Homo sapiens: one gene and its partners. The protein of the gene in region 1 interacts with the protein of each later gene in a pairwise test. Each region holds a gene or a part of one and is shown in the gene's direction. Other genes may lie near its edges.

The links.
Region 2: the proteins of POU2F1 (region 1) and HIVEP1 interact in a two-hybrid assay, tested with the Homo sapiens proteins (one large-scale study listed by BioGRID).
Region 3: the proteins of POU2F1 (region 1) and TLX2 interact in a two-hybrid assay, tested with the Homo sapiens proteins (one large-scale study listed by BioGRID and IntAct).
Region 4: the proteins of POU2F1 (region 1) and CREM interact in binary tests that used the Homo sapiens proteins (3 or more experiments, as listed by UniProt).

Annotation. Positions count from the first base shown.
Region 1 is NC_000001.11:167,423,386-167,426,885, forward strand, and holds part of POU2F1 (POU domain, class 2, transcription factor 1), read left to right. Parts: 3' UTR 1-3,500. UniProt on the Homo sapiens protein: Transcription factor that binds to the octamer motif (5'-ATTTGCAT-3') and activates the promoters of the genes for some small nuclear RNAs (snRNA) and of genes such as those for histone H2B and immunoglobulins.
Region 2 is NC_000006.12:12,015,312-12,018,811, forward strand, and holds part of HIVEP1 (zinc finger protein 40), read left to right. Parts: intron 1-214; 5' UTR 215-317; coding exon 318-357; intron 358-3,500.
Region 3 is NC_000002.12:74,513,191-74,517,249, forward strand, and holds TLX2 (T-cell leukemia homeobox protein 2), read left to right. Parts: upstream 1-1,259; 5' UTR 1,260-1,616; coding exon 1,617-2,016; intron 2,017-2,442; coding exon 2,443-2,680; intron 2,681-2,782; coding exon 2,783-2,999; 3' UTR 3,000-3,958; downstream 3,959-4,059. UniProt on the Homo sapiens protein: Transcription activator that binds DNA elements with the consensus sequence 5'-CGGTAATTGG-3'. Binds DNA via its homeobox. Required for normal cell death of enteric neurons in the gastrointestinal tract.
Region 4 is NC_000010.11:35,185,846-35,189,345, forward strand, and holds part of CREM (cAMP-responsive element modulator), read left to right. Parts: intron 1-2,354; coding exon 2,355-2,543; intron 2,544-3,500.

The DNA of each region.
Region 1 (3,500 bases):
TTATTGTTCTGACATTATGTAAAGGTGGTATTAATATTGTATGACTTGTCAAAGTGCTAGATAGGTTTATAAGTAGGTAATAGGGATGTTGAAGATTAGAGCACTTGAAACAGAAGTTCTGGGAAAACAAGGTGTGTGTAATGGAACACCACTTTGAGCACAGAAACAAAGGTCCCTTGGACCTGGTAGGGAAGATGTGATTTATGATTGTTTCTGTGTCCCTGTATCTGCCCACCCTGCACAGGGCTCCACCACCCAGGGCCACCTTCTGGTTTAAACCCAGGACACTGTCAAAAAGTTAAGACCCCAAAACTAATTTACTGTAAAAAACATTGAGGACTGCTGCAAAGTTTTCCCTTGTTTTCTTTGTGTACTTGTTCATCATTGTATAAGTTAGCCACAGCTTCACAAGAGCAGCTTAAGGCTTCTTTCATAAATTGGCAGTGGCATTGAGTTCTCAAACATTATATCCCAAAGTCTGCAGGCAGACAGCTGGATACAGCGCTGTGTATAAATGAGACGTCCAAACACTTGAGTTTCTTAAGATTGGGATCTCTTTCAAATGAAAAAGGACAGAGCCAAGTAGAGAAAAGACTTTGTGCTCCCACCCAGCCTTAATGAGTCTCATGGTCTAAAAGTATAGGAAGAAATGAAATGCACTTTCAGAAGCTAAAATGACAGTGTCTGCTACAAAAGGCTGTAGTTGTAGGCAGTCGGGGATGCCATGTCCTTGGTTCCATTCCTGCGTGAGTCTGCAGAAGGCACACACTTTGTAAGAGTAGAGTGGACTAGTGCCAGCCTGAATAGGTTTAAAACTGCAAACAGTTGGAGAACATGGAACAGGTTGGTGCAGGAAGCCTAAGATTTTGCAATCATATTATAACATTGGCTTTTGACAACATAAATGTTGTATCTTCCCTAAGGTCAGGTCGGGGAAAGAAAGACTTCCAGCTTCTTACCTCTGCGTGCATGGGCACGTGTGCATTGCTCAGTCCGCAGGAGGTCTCACTCCGCAGGAAACGCTCTCCTCCCGCATAAGTCTGTACTTCCATCCCCTCATCTGTGGTAGTAGTGAAGGCTAGGTGAGTAAGCGTGGGCTGTTCTACCCACCAGAAGTCCAGGAGCTGTTGTATACCTCATTTCTAACTCGTGACCGAGTGACTTGCTTTAACTTTCTCGAAATCCTACAGAGTTGCCAAGTCTGCCCTCCCTCCTCAGTCATGTTAAACTCTGGCCTATAGCATCATGGGACCTGTAGCCTAGGGTGGGACCCCCTAAAGCCTCTGAATGTCGCTGCTTAAAAGCTACTGCAAACTGAGGGCAAATTGCAATCTTCTATTCCTTTTTGTTGCAAGGGGTCTTCACAGGTCTCTTAACATCTGCTTTCCCTGCCACCCTGCCTTTAGGGGCTGGCCAGCTATCCACACCCCTAACCCACCCTGTGTTTCTGACAGCTGGCCACACGTCAACTTCTGTACTTGCCTTTTCCTTGGTGGGGTAGAGGCCAACCCCTTCTCCTCTGAGGCCTCAGGGTTCTGTTTCTTTTCAGGACTTTGGGTAGAAGGGAAGACACCAAAGGCTCCTTTAAGCTGACTGCTGCATACACATTTCACTTTTTTTCCTTTGACATGACCAAAAATATCCAAATATTTAAGTTTATTATTATTATTATTATTATTTGACAATCTTATATCCAATGGGCTCTCTAGAAGCTGCATCCCCAGCCCTTTCACCTTTTCTTTGAATGTAGTTCCCAACCTTCAATTCCCACCCCTAATGCTGACAAAAAGCTTAGCCAGGTCATGATACTGCTGCTATAAGCCAGGGGAGGGTGGTTTCTTTGTTTTGTTTTGTTTTGTTTTGTTTTTCAAATTTCCAGCCAAAACCAAAGATTTCTTAATGATTGTATAAACTCAAAACAAACAAAAGAACCAAAGAAAAGGGAAGTCTTCAGCATCAGTCCAGTCTGTGGTGTCCTGGCACTTAGAAGAGTGAGGCCAGGGAAGGTGGGGCGGGGGGACCCTCTGACTGGATCAGAAAGGGCAGGCAAGCTGCTTACCACCTTCCAGGGTCCAGCACAGGTGCATGCCCCTAGCTTTGGCCCTCACAAACTTGTGAGCATGCCCTGAAACAAATTGGCATTTCAGATTTTCCAAAACAAAAGTCAAAAAACCCCATCACCACCATCATCCACCCTACACCAACCAGGGTCACTATGGGGACTTAGCACAGGGCCTAGGGAGGGTGGGAGCTGCTGCTGGACTGGCCCGAGGACTCCACAGAGTGGGGGACGTTGAAGACACTGGCGCACGATTGGCTGCTCTGCTGGGTGCTTTAACCTCTGGGGCTGGGCGAATGCACGCCACGGTGCCCTTCTGAGCCTTTTTTTCTTTTCCTGTACTGGAACTGCTTGGAAGTGGCTGTCCTGTTTGTGAGAAAACATGCAGAAAGATTATCAAGCTTTTCATTTCTCTTTATTGTAGTTTTCTTTCCTTTTTGCAGCACCACTGTGCAACTATGCATTGTACTTCACAACCTTTTGTGCTAGGTAGATGCCTGTGACTTTTTAACTTGGGGGGTGGGGGGATTGCAAATGAAGGAACTTTTTACATGGATCTTTTTAATCTCAGTTGGTTGGGGGAGGGGGGTACTTGGTTCTTGGGTCACACAAGCTCTATCCCAAAGCAAAATCCAAATGTTAATAATATTAGCCTGATGCAGATACCAAAGATAATTTCTTTCCTGCAGAACCTTAGACTCGTGTATTAAGTACGATTACCCAGCACTTGCATTAGTCTAACCTCAGTAATTCCAAAGCTTAGATGTATATTTTGGTATATTTCTGGGATATTAAAAAAAAAATGTCGTTTAACTTCTTGTTTGTTTCAGTGTAATGCTCTTAAAGTCATAGCATGAAAATAATTGAACTGTCCTATTCTTAGTAGTTTGAAATAATAGTATTTTTGTATGTTTTGGGTGTGTCTATGTATGTATTAACATAACAGTTTTCACTGCCTAGGTGTTCATAATAAAAAAGAAAATGAAAAAAGTTCTGAGTGTACATAATATTCAATAATAATCTCCCACCAGGTGTCAATTTAGATTGCATATTCCTCATTACTGTTCCCAACTGGGATTTTGTTTTCTTTTAAAGAGACAGTGATCGTGTTTTTCTAAAGATGTTTTCTTTCTCTCTTTCAATATCTTAACTCACTTTTTTTTTCTTCCTTTTTTGTCTTAATTATTAATTCAGGGGTGTTTGTCCACTGTTGTCAAAGGAGGGGCACAAGGGGAATTGGCCCCCGGCCTCCTAGAACTTTTTGTTTTATGTACTTTAAAATGTGAGTTTGAGTTCTTCTTTGTGGAAACTTAAGATGTGGTGTAAATGATTCTTTCCAAAATTGTCCAGCAGCTTGAATGAGGCAGTGACAATTCTGAGGTGGTTTATTGGGAGTCCTTCTACATTTCTCTTAGATAACTCTGCACTCTGGGTGGCTATT
Region 2 (3,500 bases), on another chromosome or scaffold:
AGATACGGTGTTTTTTTTCTGTTTTCTTAATGAGAAGTCCCGATACTGACAAAATGACCTCTGTTTAATTAAAAGTTAGTAATCTTTTGCAGTGGTGCCCAGCTTGGTTACTTTTTCTTGAGTTTAGGTTAGTGCTCTGCTAGGCAGTAACTTTTAAAGTATCTTTCTCCTCTGAAGGTAGTAAAATGTGCTTCTCCGTTTTTTTCTTTTTCAGCACATGGATTAATTGATGTATGTTGAGTTTATGGAGCTGCCTTTTGGTGGCTTGCTTTATCTGCAGTTTTTAAGAAGAAAAAGAAGGCCCTGAGTCAAAGAAGATGCCTCGAACTAAACAAATTCATCCCAGAAATCTAAGAGGTAAAGCATTGCATTAAGTAGAAGTAAGGCTTGCTGTAAATCTTTTAACAAAGTATCTCTTTGGTGACAGGAATGGCCGTTTGTTAGATGTTGACCCTGCCTGGTGAGGAGCGCTATTTCTCTTGCTCATTTCCAGCAGTCCTGCACAATTCCTGTCTCTCAGGAGATACTTAATAAATATCTGTTGAATGAATGAATTGAATTTGACGAAATTACAGTGCATTCCTTCCAAACCATTAGATGGGGTATTAAAGGCTGAAAGTTGCTATTTGTTAATAGGAACCATATTTGGGTCAAGGAATCTGAAAGTAATGGTTAAATATTCTTTGCCAACTGGATCATTAAGAATTTTATGTTTTTTTTTCACTCTTCCTCCATAGTTCTTTTGAGGTTTATTTTTGTACCACTCCATCAGTTAGATTAACAAGATAAGAAGTGAAGAGAATTGTAGGCATTCACTCAGACCATTACTTGCAGAAGTCAGAGGCAAACTGAGTTATTTTCCACGAAGAAGCAGTGGGTCACAAATATATATATGATACACATTTCATGCAAAGACAGAAAAGTGTGTGTTTTCCATCAACCGCGAATACTTTTAATAGTAGAAAAGTAAGTGTATTCTAGCTTATTGTTTAAAAAGATTTGTATTGTTCTCGTGTTATATCAATGGTGAATAGCAATTATCTTTTATATTAAACTTCAGGAGATAAGAATGTAGTAGTGCTAAAAACAAGAACTATTAAAGCAAATAATTCCAAACTGACTATGGTGTTTTATGAAATATTTACCATTACAGAAAAAAAATTCTGAAGCGTATGTAGGGGAGAAGTGACTTAAAAATCAAATAAATTAATTTGAAATGTTTTTTGGTAAAATCAATTTGGCTAGTCACCATAAGGTGATCTTTGAAAATGCAGTCAATTTTATGGCCTCCGTGAATCTGGAAATAGTGCTTGTTTCCTGTCTAGAAATCTCTGTTGCCTCAGGTGGATGCCTCAGCCTAAGTTCAAATTGATGATTGTAGTAACCAGTGTTCAATGAGGTGGAGATTTACATGAGAACAAGTGTGGTGTGTGGAAATCTGATTTTTTATAGTCATATAGAAAACGTTGAAAATTGAATGTGTTTGCCCGTCCCCCTCACTAGAATCTGAACTCCCTAGAGACTCACTCTCATTTGTTACTGTAGGAAAAGCCTCCAGACCCAAGGGTACCAGCTGAGGTGGGCATTTGGAGACATGGGCCCTGCTTTATCTGTCCAGGGAGGGCACCCTGTTCTAGTTTGCACAAGTGCAGCATACAGATGAGCAGCAGCCCTAGCCCAGCACAGTTCCTGGCAGCTAATGGCAGCCCAAATATTTGTTGAAGGAACGAGTGCATGATTGATCTGAAGGTGTTATTTATTAGGCCATAAGTATTAAACATTTTTCATATTTAAAATATATGTTCATAACATTCTAGATAAAATGACTATCCTGAGAAACACAGATTTACAGGCCATAGGCTCTTTTCCTTTCTGTATCAAATAAATGTTCAACTCAGCACATGTTTGTTACTGTGTCTGGAATTGGTGGGTTCTTGGTCTCACTGACTTCAAGAATGAAGCCACAGGCCCTCGCCGTGAGTGTTATAGCTCTTAAAGGTAGCGTGTCCACAGGTTGTTCCTTCTGATGTTCAGATGTGTTTGGAGTTTCTTTCTTCTGGTAGGTTCGTGGTCTCGCTGGTTCAGGAGTGAAGCTGCACACCTTTGCGGTGAGTTTTATAGCTCATAAAGGCAGTACAGACTCAAAGAGCAAGCAGTAGCAAGATTTATTGCAAAGAGCACAACAACAAAGCTTCCACAGTCTGCAAGGGGACCCAAGCAGTTGCAACTGCTGCCTCCGGCAGCCTGCTTTTATTCTCCCGTCTGGCCCCACCCACATCCTGCTGATTGGTCCGTTTTACAGAGAGCCGATTGGTCTGTTTTACAGAGAGCTGATTGGTCCATTTTGACAGGGTGCTGATTGGTGTGTTTACAATCCCTGAGCTAGACACAAAAGTTCTCCAGGTCCCCACTAGATTAGCTAGATACAGAGTGCTGATTGGTGTATTTAAAAACCTTGAGCTAGATAAAGAGTGCTGATTGGTGTATTCACAATCCCTTAGCTAGACATAAAGTTTCTCCAGGTCCCCACTAGACTCAGGAGCCCAGCTGGCTTCACCCAGTGGATCCCGCACTGGGGCCACAGGTGGAGCTGCCTGCGCCTTGTGCCTGCACTACTCAGCCCTTGGGTGGTCGATGGGACTGGGCGCCTAGGAACAGGGGGCAGCGCTCATCGGGGAGGCTGGGGCCGTGCAGGAGCCCATGGCGTGGGGGGTGCTTAGGCATGGCGGGCTGCAGGTCCTGAGCCCTGCCCCACGGGGAAGCAGCTAAAGCCCGGCGAGAAATCGAGCGCAGCACCAGTGGGCCGGCACTGCTGGGGGACCTGGCGCACCCTTCGCGGCTGCTGGCTTGGGTGCTAAGCCCCTCACTGCCCGGGGCCTGCCAAGCCCACGCCAACTGGGAACTCTAGCTGGCCTACAAGCGCCACGCGCGGCCCCCGTTCCTGCCCGCGCTTCTTCCTCCACACCTCCCTGCAAGCTGAGGGAGCCGGCTCTGGCCTGGGCCATCCCAGGAAGGGGATCCCACAGTGCAGCGGCGGGCTGAAGGGCTCCTCAAGCGCGGCCAGAGTGGGCACCAAGGCGGAGGAGGCGCCGAGAGCGAGTGAGGGCTGACAGCACGGTGTCACCTCTCATTACTACCTTCATGTACTTCATGTTCTTATGATAGGGATAAAATGATAAAACACAGGTCTCGAAAGAAGAATGGAGTTGAAGAGCTGATAGGTAAACATGTAACTATGTACTATGGTGAGAAATGAATAGTATGGAGATTCCACAGAGATAGGGAGTCATTATTTTGTCCCCATTGTAGGGGGCGCAGTTTGGGGTGAAGCAGAATGATGATTTAGGGAAGGAAAGTTAACACCTGGATTTGGTTCTTAAGGCTGGGAAGTTATCTGCGAAGCTGACAAGGCAAAGTGAGTGCATTTCATCCTGGGGTAGCAGGTTGTGAAATAACTTGGGGACTCTGAGCAACTTTAAATGGTTCTCTACTTCTAGAGC
Region 3 (4,059 bases), on another chromosome or scaffold:
AGCTGCTCGTTGGTGCCCACCCGCCACCGCCACCGCAGGATGGTAGAAGCGCCCCCCTCTCTGAGCCCAGTCTCACCGGCTCAGAGGCGCCAGGGCCCCCCCGGGGGCCGGGGCGGGCCGGGGAAGGTAATGTAATTCCGGCCCAGCTAACCCGATTACCGCGGCCTGCACCGGGCAGGGCGGCGGCGGGGGCGGGTCTAAGGCTCAGGGGCCCGCCCGCGGGGGTCCCATCCCCGGGAAGGACGCAGAGTTCACGCACTCCCGGCTCCTGGATTCATGGCCAGAGGTCACAAGGTCACCAAGCGGCTTAGGTCTTTCCCCACCTCCCTTCTCTGACAGCTCCAGGCCATTTTTTGAGTTTGGGTGGGGTAAAATGTTTATGGGAAACAAGGCGGCCAGGATCCAACCAAGGCCTCAGTGAGGTCCCACGTGTCCCCCGTGGCGAGATTTCGCCCTCCCGCCGTTGAGGAGGAAGAGTGTGAGAACAGACTTCCTAGGCACAGAATGGAGGGGCAGAGTCCTGCATTGAGGACTCCCTGCACTTGGGGTCCGGGGGTAAGTGCCAGCCCCAAGAACCCGCCGGCCTGATTTGGCCCGGGTTGAGCCATGGTCCGTTTTACACGGATTTTGGAAAATCGAAATTCTAGGAAACACAGGACACCAATTACCGGTGCGCATGAACAGGGCTGGGGGGACCTACAGGAGAGGCCAGAAGGCGCACCACGATCGCCAGCCCAAAGCGGCCGTTCCCCGCCCTTAGCCCCTGCCGTCCCCTTCCCACACCTGTTCTCTTCCTGGGCCTGCAGCTCACCGGGCGCCGTTCCCCAGCCGCTTCTTACGCAGCCGGGAAACCACAACGAGATTTGGTCTTCGAGAGCATTTAGGCGGGGACCACAACGAATCCGGGAGTTGGCCAGAAGGATCCATCGAGAGGCGAAGAGTGGGGGCTGGGGGAGGAGGCACCTGCGGAGGAAGCCGGTGAGGCGGAGGCAGCCCAAAGGCGGAGGCCGCCCAAAGGCGGAGGCCAGCAAGGATGGAGGCGCGGTGAGCATCTCCGCTGACTCAGCGGCCCATGCTCGGGCCCCTCCCGCGCTGAGCCTGGCTCCTAACACCCTGGCCCCCTGTCCCCCTCCCCGCACATCTCCGCCAGCCAGCCTTCCCCCTGCGCTTGGCGCAAACAGGCGTCCCTTCCCCTTTAACTGCTGGGCCCCGCCCCTGCCCTACCCCCAGCCCCCACTACCCACCCGGGCCGATCCGTCAGTCACTGCCCCAGCCGGAGCTGGCCAACCCTCTCCACCCGGGACTTGGGCAGCGGCGCCGGCAGCCCAGCGTCTATTTGCGCTTAAGAGCCAGCAAGGAAGCTCCAGGGGCCCCAGCTGGCCGTGCTCCCCCGGGATGCAAGTCCCTGCGCTGACGCCCGGCAGCGGCTGGCACGGGCGCGGCTGCTCCGGGTGCACAGGGATGCTGCTGTTTCGGGGACCCCGGCGCCCTGCCTTGGCCAGCCCCGCGGGCCCCTGAGGCCACTCTCCGGAGCGCGCCGCCGCTGGGCTTCTGGCGCTGCCTGAGGCATCCTCCCCAACCACCGAACCTCCGGCGGTTCTCCTCGGCCCAGACCGATGGAGCCGGGGATGCTGGGTCCACACAACCTCCCACACCACGAGCCAATCAGCTTCGGCATCGATCAGATCCTGAGCGGCCCCGAAACCCCAGGGGGCGGTCTAGGCCTGGGTCGCGGGGGCCAGGGTCATGGGGAGAATGGGGCGTTCTCGGGTGGATACCACGGAGCCTCGGGCTACGGTCCCGCCGGCTCACTTGCCCCGCTGCCCGGCAGCTCCGGAGTGGGCCCAGGCGGCGTGATCCGCGTCCCTGCGCACCGCCCGCTGCCTGTGCCGCCGCCCGCTGGGGGGGCGCCTGCAGTGCCTGGGCCCTCGGGTTTGGGCGGCGCCGGAGGCCTAGCGGGACTCACCTTCCCCTGGATGGACAGCGGCCGCCGCTTTGCCAAGGACCGGCTCACGGGTGAGGTTGTCTGACCCCTCCAGCGTCACGCCCGACTCTGACCCCGTCTCCTCATTTCTTAGCTTTCTGCTCCAACTCAAGGACCCCTTTCACACCTCCCACTAGATCCTCCCAGGGGATCCTCCCCCAACTCAAATCTCTGGGTCCTGCCTCCGAGAGGTGATGGGGAGGGAGCTGCCGTCGGTGCCCGCGCCCTCCTCTGTAGTCCCACTGTCCACGCGTGGGGAGGGGAGGGTGAAGTTACAGGGGACGTCTCCCTCGCATCCCAGGGGAAGGGCCTTTCTTGGCTATAGGGCTCGGCTGATGCTTAGGGCCCGGGTAAGGACAGGGCGCGGGAGTTCTGCGGCCTGGACAGCCGCGCGGCCTTCTCAGTGGCACCTCGGGCCACCCTGCAAATCCTGCCCTGGTCTTTCTTCCTCCCGGTAGCTGCGCTCTCGCCCTTCTCTGGGACGCGCCGCATAGGCCACCCCTACCAAAACCGGACCCCTCCGAAGCGGAAGAAGCCGCGCACGTCCTTCTCCCGCTCACAGGTGCTGGAGTTGGAGCGGCGCTTCCTGCGCCAGAAGTACCTGGCCTCTGCGGAGAGGGCGGCGCTGGCCAAGGCCTTGCGCATGACCGACGCACAGGTCAAAACGTGGTTCCAGAACCGACGCACCAAGTGGCGGTGAGGCGCGGCGCGGGCGAGGGCGGACTGGGGTTCCCGAGCAGGGCCTGGTGAGAAGCGACGCGGCGGGCGCCCCGCTGACCCCGCGTCTCCCTCCCTTAGGCGCCAGACGGCGGAGGAGCGCGAGGCCGAGCGGCACCGCGCGGGCCGGCTGCTCCTGCATCTGCAGCAGGACGCGTTGCCACGGCCGCTGCGGCCGCCGCTGCCCCCGGACCCTCTCTGCCTGCACAACTCGTCGCTCTTCGCGCTGCAGAACCTGCAGCCCTGGGCCGAGGACAACAAAGTGGCTTCAGTGTCCGGGCTCGCCTCGGTGGTGTGAGCGACGCCCGTCCGATCGGCGTGGAGCGCCGGGCCCGGAGCGGTGGAGCGCGCGGCTGCCTGCGTCCATGGTCTAGTGGCAGCCGGGCGCGTGAGGAGCGGCAGGCCTTGAGGCTGTCGTCGAGGGCTCCTCCACCACCGGCCGGCTCCCAAGCCAGCGTTGCGCAGATGCACGGCCAGCTCAGAGGCGGCCTTTCCCGCCATTTTTCACTTCACTGCCGTTACGCCCTCGCTGGAACCTGAGGCGCCGAGAGGGCGGGACCTGCAGGACAGTAGCCAATGAGGTGCGGGGAGGGGGCCGGGCTGGCCAATGGGAGCTGCTTTCCTGAGGGACTCGAAATTCTCCGGCGGGTGGTCGGGAGCTGGGGCTCTGAGGGGCTCTAGCGGCGTTGCGCGCGGTGCCGGCTGGGTCTGTACCAAAGGTGTGAAGGAAAGAAGACACCGACCACGGCGAAGCAATAGAGGGGGTGCTGGAGCGCGAGAGGCTGGCTGATTGTGACCGAAACCAGAGGGTTGTCCACCCCGGGCATCTCATCCCTCAACTGTAAAATAATCGCTAAGGATTCCTTCCTGACTTTGAGCCTCACGTTGTCATGTGTGTTCAGCCTGCTGGCCACATCCTCCGGCAACACGCCCGGGCAGGAGGCGAGTCGGATACTTACACACCCAACGAAAGAGAAAATCTGGCTCCGGTGTCACATAGGGACAGAGAAGGGAGAGGAGGAAACAGTGGACAAAGTTAATGGGCCCAGTGGAGTTAGGGTGAAGAGAATTTGGAAAATAATTTGGAAGTGACAAGCTTAAGAAGAATCAAAGGTAATTCCAAGACTGGAAATGTGCAGCATCAGGAAATCAATGGTGCTGTGGATGATGAAAGGGAAATTGGGAAGACTGGAGCAAAATTAACTGTATAGGCAAAACTAAATGTTATACCTAGAGAGAATAAATCCTGGAGAAGTGCCTTTGAGGGAGATCAGCTGACATCCACATAGAGGTGGACCTAGATAGAATGAATGAGAACAGATAGAATCTCTGAGGGAGGGAACTCTTGAGGAGAAAAG
Region 4 (3,500 bases), on another chromosome or scaffold:
CAGCATGTGGAAGTCTTTTTAAAAATGTTAATCTATCTTCCTGTGTAGACACTGGCACCTTAGGTGAAAGAAGTGAAAATTTGTTGTTGTTACTCTTTCCATAATTCTCATAGGTTTGTCCTATCAGGTTATCGCCTAAGTGCTTTTTTGCCTAGATGCCTTTAAAAACGTTTGGAAATGACTTGAAAATATTCAGAGTGTATTTTAAACACTACTGTTACGCTACTGTAAGGTATTTACATTGATGTATAGATGTCATGTTATTCTGGTGATGTGTTTTTAAAATCTTCATTGTAAAGCCTAGTTAGCTAGTTTATATGTGATTTTTTAAAAAGCATAGCCTCTGGTACCATTTAATATCTACTGTTTGAAGCATGCAGTTGGAATCTTTATGTTAAAATATACAGACCTTTCAGATATTTTAAATAATACTTGTCTATTAGAGTGAAATTTTGAAACAAAACGTTTGATCAGTTATTCTTTGGAAGCTTCAAGTCAATTAATATGTTAACTTTTAAACATGACTGGCAGATCTCAGTATTTAAAGGAAATCTACTTCCTATTTGTTGCCATTAGCTGTAGTTACTTGAGATACTTGGTAGAGGTAAATATTGTAGCACAAATCCTTTTAGTAACAGTTACTTTTTAAGGACCTTTGCAACTTGACAATTTATATTTCAGGATTCTCCTGACATAGACAAAATGGCAAAGGTTACAGTTTTCTAGACTTTAGCTTTATAACCAAAATATGTTTTTATATATATTTATATATAAATATATAATATATGTAAATTATATAGTTATATATAACATATGACATATATAATTATAATAAATATATATTAAAAATTTTGGTCATATATACAACATATATAACTATATATAATTATATATAGTTATAATTATATATAGTTATATATAATATATAACAAATTATATATAACATAATTATGTTATATATAATTGTACATAACATATATACATATATAGGTATATATACGTATATATGTTATATATAATTATATATTATATATAAAATATAAATAATTATAAAAATATAATAATTATTAAAATATATGTTATATATAAATACAATATAAATTATATATATAAATATATAATTTATATATTATATGTGATATATATTATATATTATATATAATATAATATATAATATATATCACATATAATATATATTATATATAATTAATATATATAATTAATATAATAATATATATAATATATAATATATATGATATATATTATATAAATATATAAATATATTAATATATTAATATATAATATATATAATATATATTATATATTAATATTAATATATAAATATATTAATATATAATATATATTATATATTTATATATATAAAATATATAATTATATATAACATATATAATTATATGTATGTTGGTTTTTTTTTTTAGATGGAGTCTCTGTTGCCCAGGCTGGAGTGCAGTGCCGCAATCTCAGCTCACTGCAACCTCCAACTCCCGGGTTCAAGTGATTCTCCTGTCTCAGCCTCCCGAGTAACTGGGACTACAGACACCTGCCACCACACCTGGCTAATTTTTGTATTTTTAGTAGAGGCGGGGTTTCACCATATTGATCAGGCTGGTCTCAAACTCCTGACCTCAGGTGATCTGCCTACCTTGGCCTCCCAAAGTCCTAAGTTTACAGGCGTGAGCCACTGCACCTTGCCTATATATTTCTTAAAAACTACTTTCTTTTGATGACAAATCAGAAAAGTAGTTAGCTGAATGAAGGTAGAAATTCATTTTAATTGCAATATTAAATGGGAATTTTTCTTTTCTTTTCTTTTCTTTTTTTAGAGACAGGGTTTTCCTGTGTTGCCCAGGCTGGCCTTGAACTCCTGGGCTCAAGTGATCCTCCTGCCTTGGCCTCCCAAAGTGCTGGGATCACAGGCATGAGCCACCACACCTGGCCTTAAATGGGAATTTTAAATGGTAGAAGAATGGTGTTTATAAGGAAAAACATCTGAGAGAATGGAGAAAACCAGGAAGCTGGACTCTCCCTGTCTCCTTCTCCACTCTTCCTCTTGAGTGATGTAGTCAGCTGGATGCTAAGGAGGAGGAACACTCCATGGGCTCTATGAATCTCAAACATTTCTGAATATAAAATATTTTCAAGTGTTTATAAGCTTTTCCTAGAGTATCGTCCCATGACGAAGCTGATCTTCCTTCTCAATTCAGCATAGAAAATAAGGGTAACCTGAGAAAGAAGCAATGGTAATAAATAGACCCAGAGTATATTCTTCCAATAGGGGATTATTAAAAATAAATCTTGAAATTCTCTAATATTTCTTTTCTTTTTCTGTTAAGTTGCTATAGCCCAAGGTGGAACAATCCAGATTTCTAACCCAGGATCTGATGGTGTTCAGGGACTGCAGGCATTAACAATGACAAATTCAGGAGCTCCTCCACCAGGTGCTACAATTGTACAGTACGCAGCACAATCAGCTGATGGCACACAGCAGTTCTTTGTCCCAGGCAGCCAGGTTGTTGTTCAAGGTATATTTTATTAATCTAATACATTTAGAATACCTATGGATTACTATATCACACCATTGAGTGGTGATTTTATAGTTTTTTGAAATAGATCGAAGGTAGATGGTGGGGGGTTGGGAGGCACTTAAAAAGGCTTACAGAAGAAATATTTTAATACATTAAACAGCAAATTAAGTTTTATCATTTTTCGCCTTTTAGCAGGTTTTACTGGCTCTGGAGAAAGGCCAAATTCAGAGTAGCATGATAGAAAAAGAGAGATAGAAACATGAATGAATTTTTTTTTTTTTTTTTTGAGATGGAGTCTCGCTCTGGCGCCCAGGCTGGAGTACAATGGCGTGATCTCGGCTCACTGCAACCTGTCTCCTGGGTTCAAGTGATTCTTCTGCCTCAGCTTCCCGGGGAGCTGGGATTACAGGCATGAGCCACCACGCCTGGCTAATTTTTGTATTTTTAGTAGAGACGGGGTTTCACCATGTTGGGCAGGCTGGTCTCAAACTCCTGACCTCAGATGGAGTCGTCCTGACCTCAGGTGGAGGCCTCAGCCTCCTAAAGTGCTGGGATTACAGACGTGAGCCACCGCACCCGGCCACATGAATGAATTTTTAAATTAATTAGATATCCTTCATTTGGGGGTTGCAAATGTTGTACCTAATAGATTTCTATTACCTAATCTATGACAATTTAAGTATTCAGGCTATGATGCCCCAAATTTGTTTTTTTCCCTAGCTGTTACTTTCAAGTCTAATTTCTAGGCAACTCATTTCAAAACAAATGCTGACTTTGGGTTTTTTGTTTTTTTTTGTTTGTTTGTTTTTTTGACTGACTGTTCTTAGTTGTTTGAATTCTGAAGTATCCATTCTAGCTCTTATGGAAGCTGTCAGTAATGAAATAAAAGTTGAGATGTAGCCCTAAGCTTTTAGGGTTACCTGAGATTTCAACTGGATTTGCGTTATACATTAT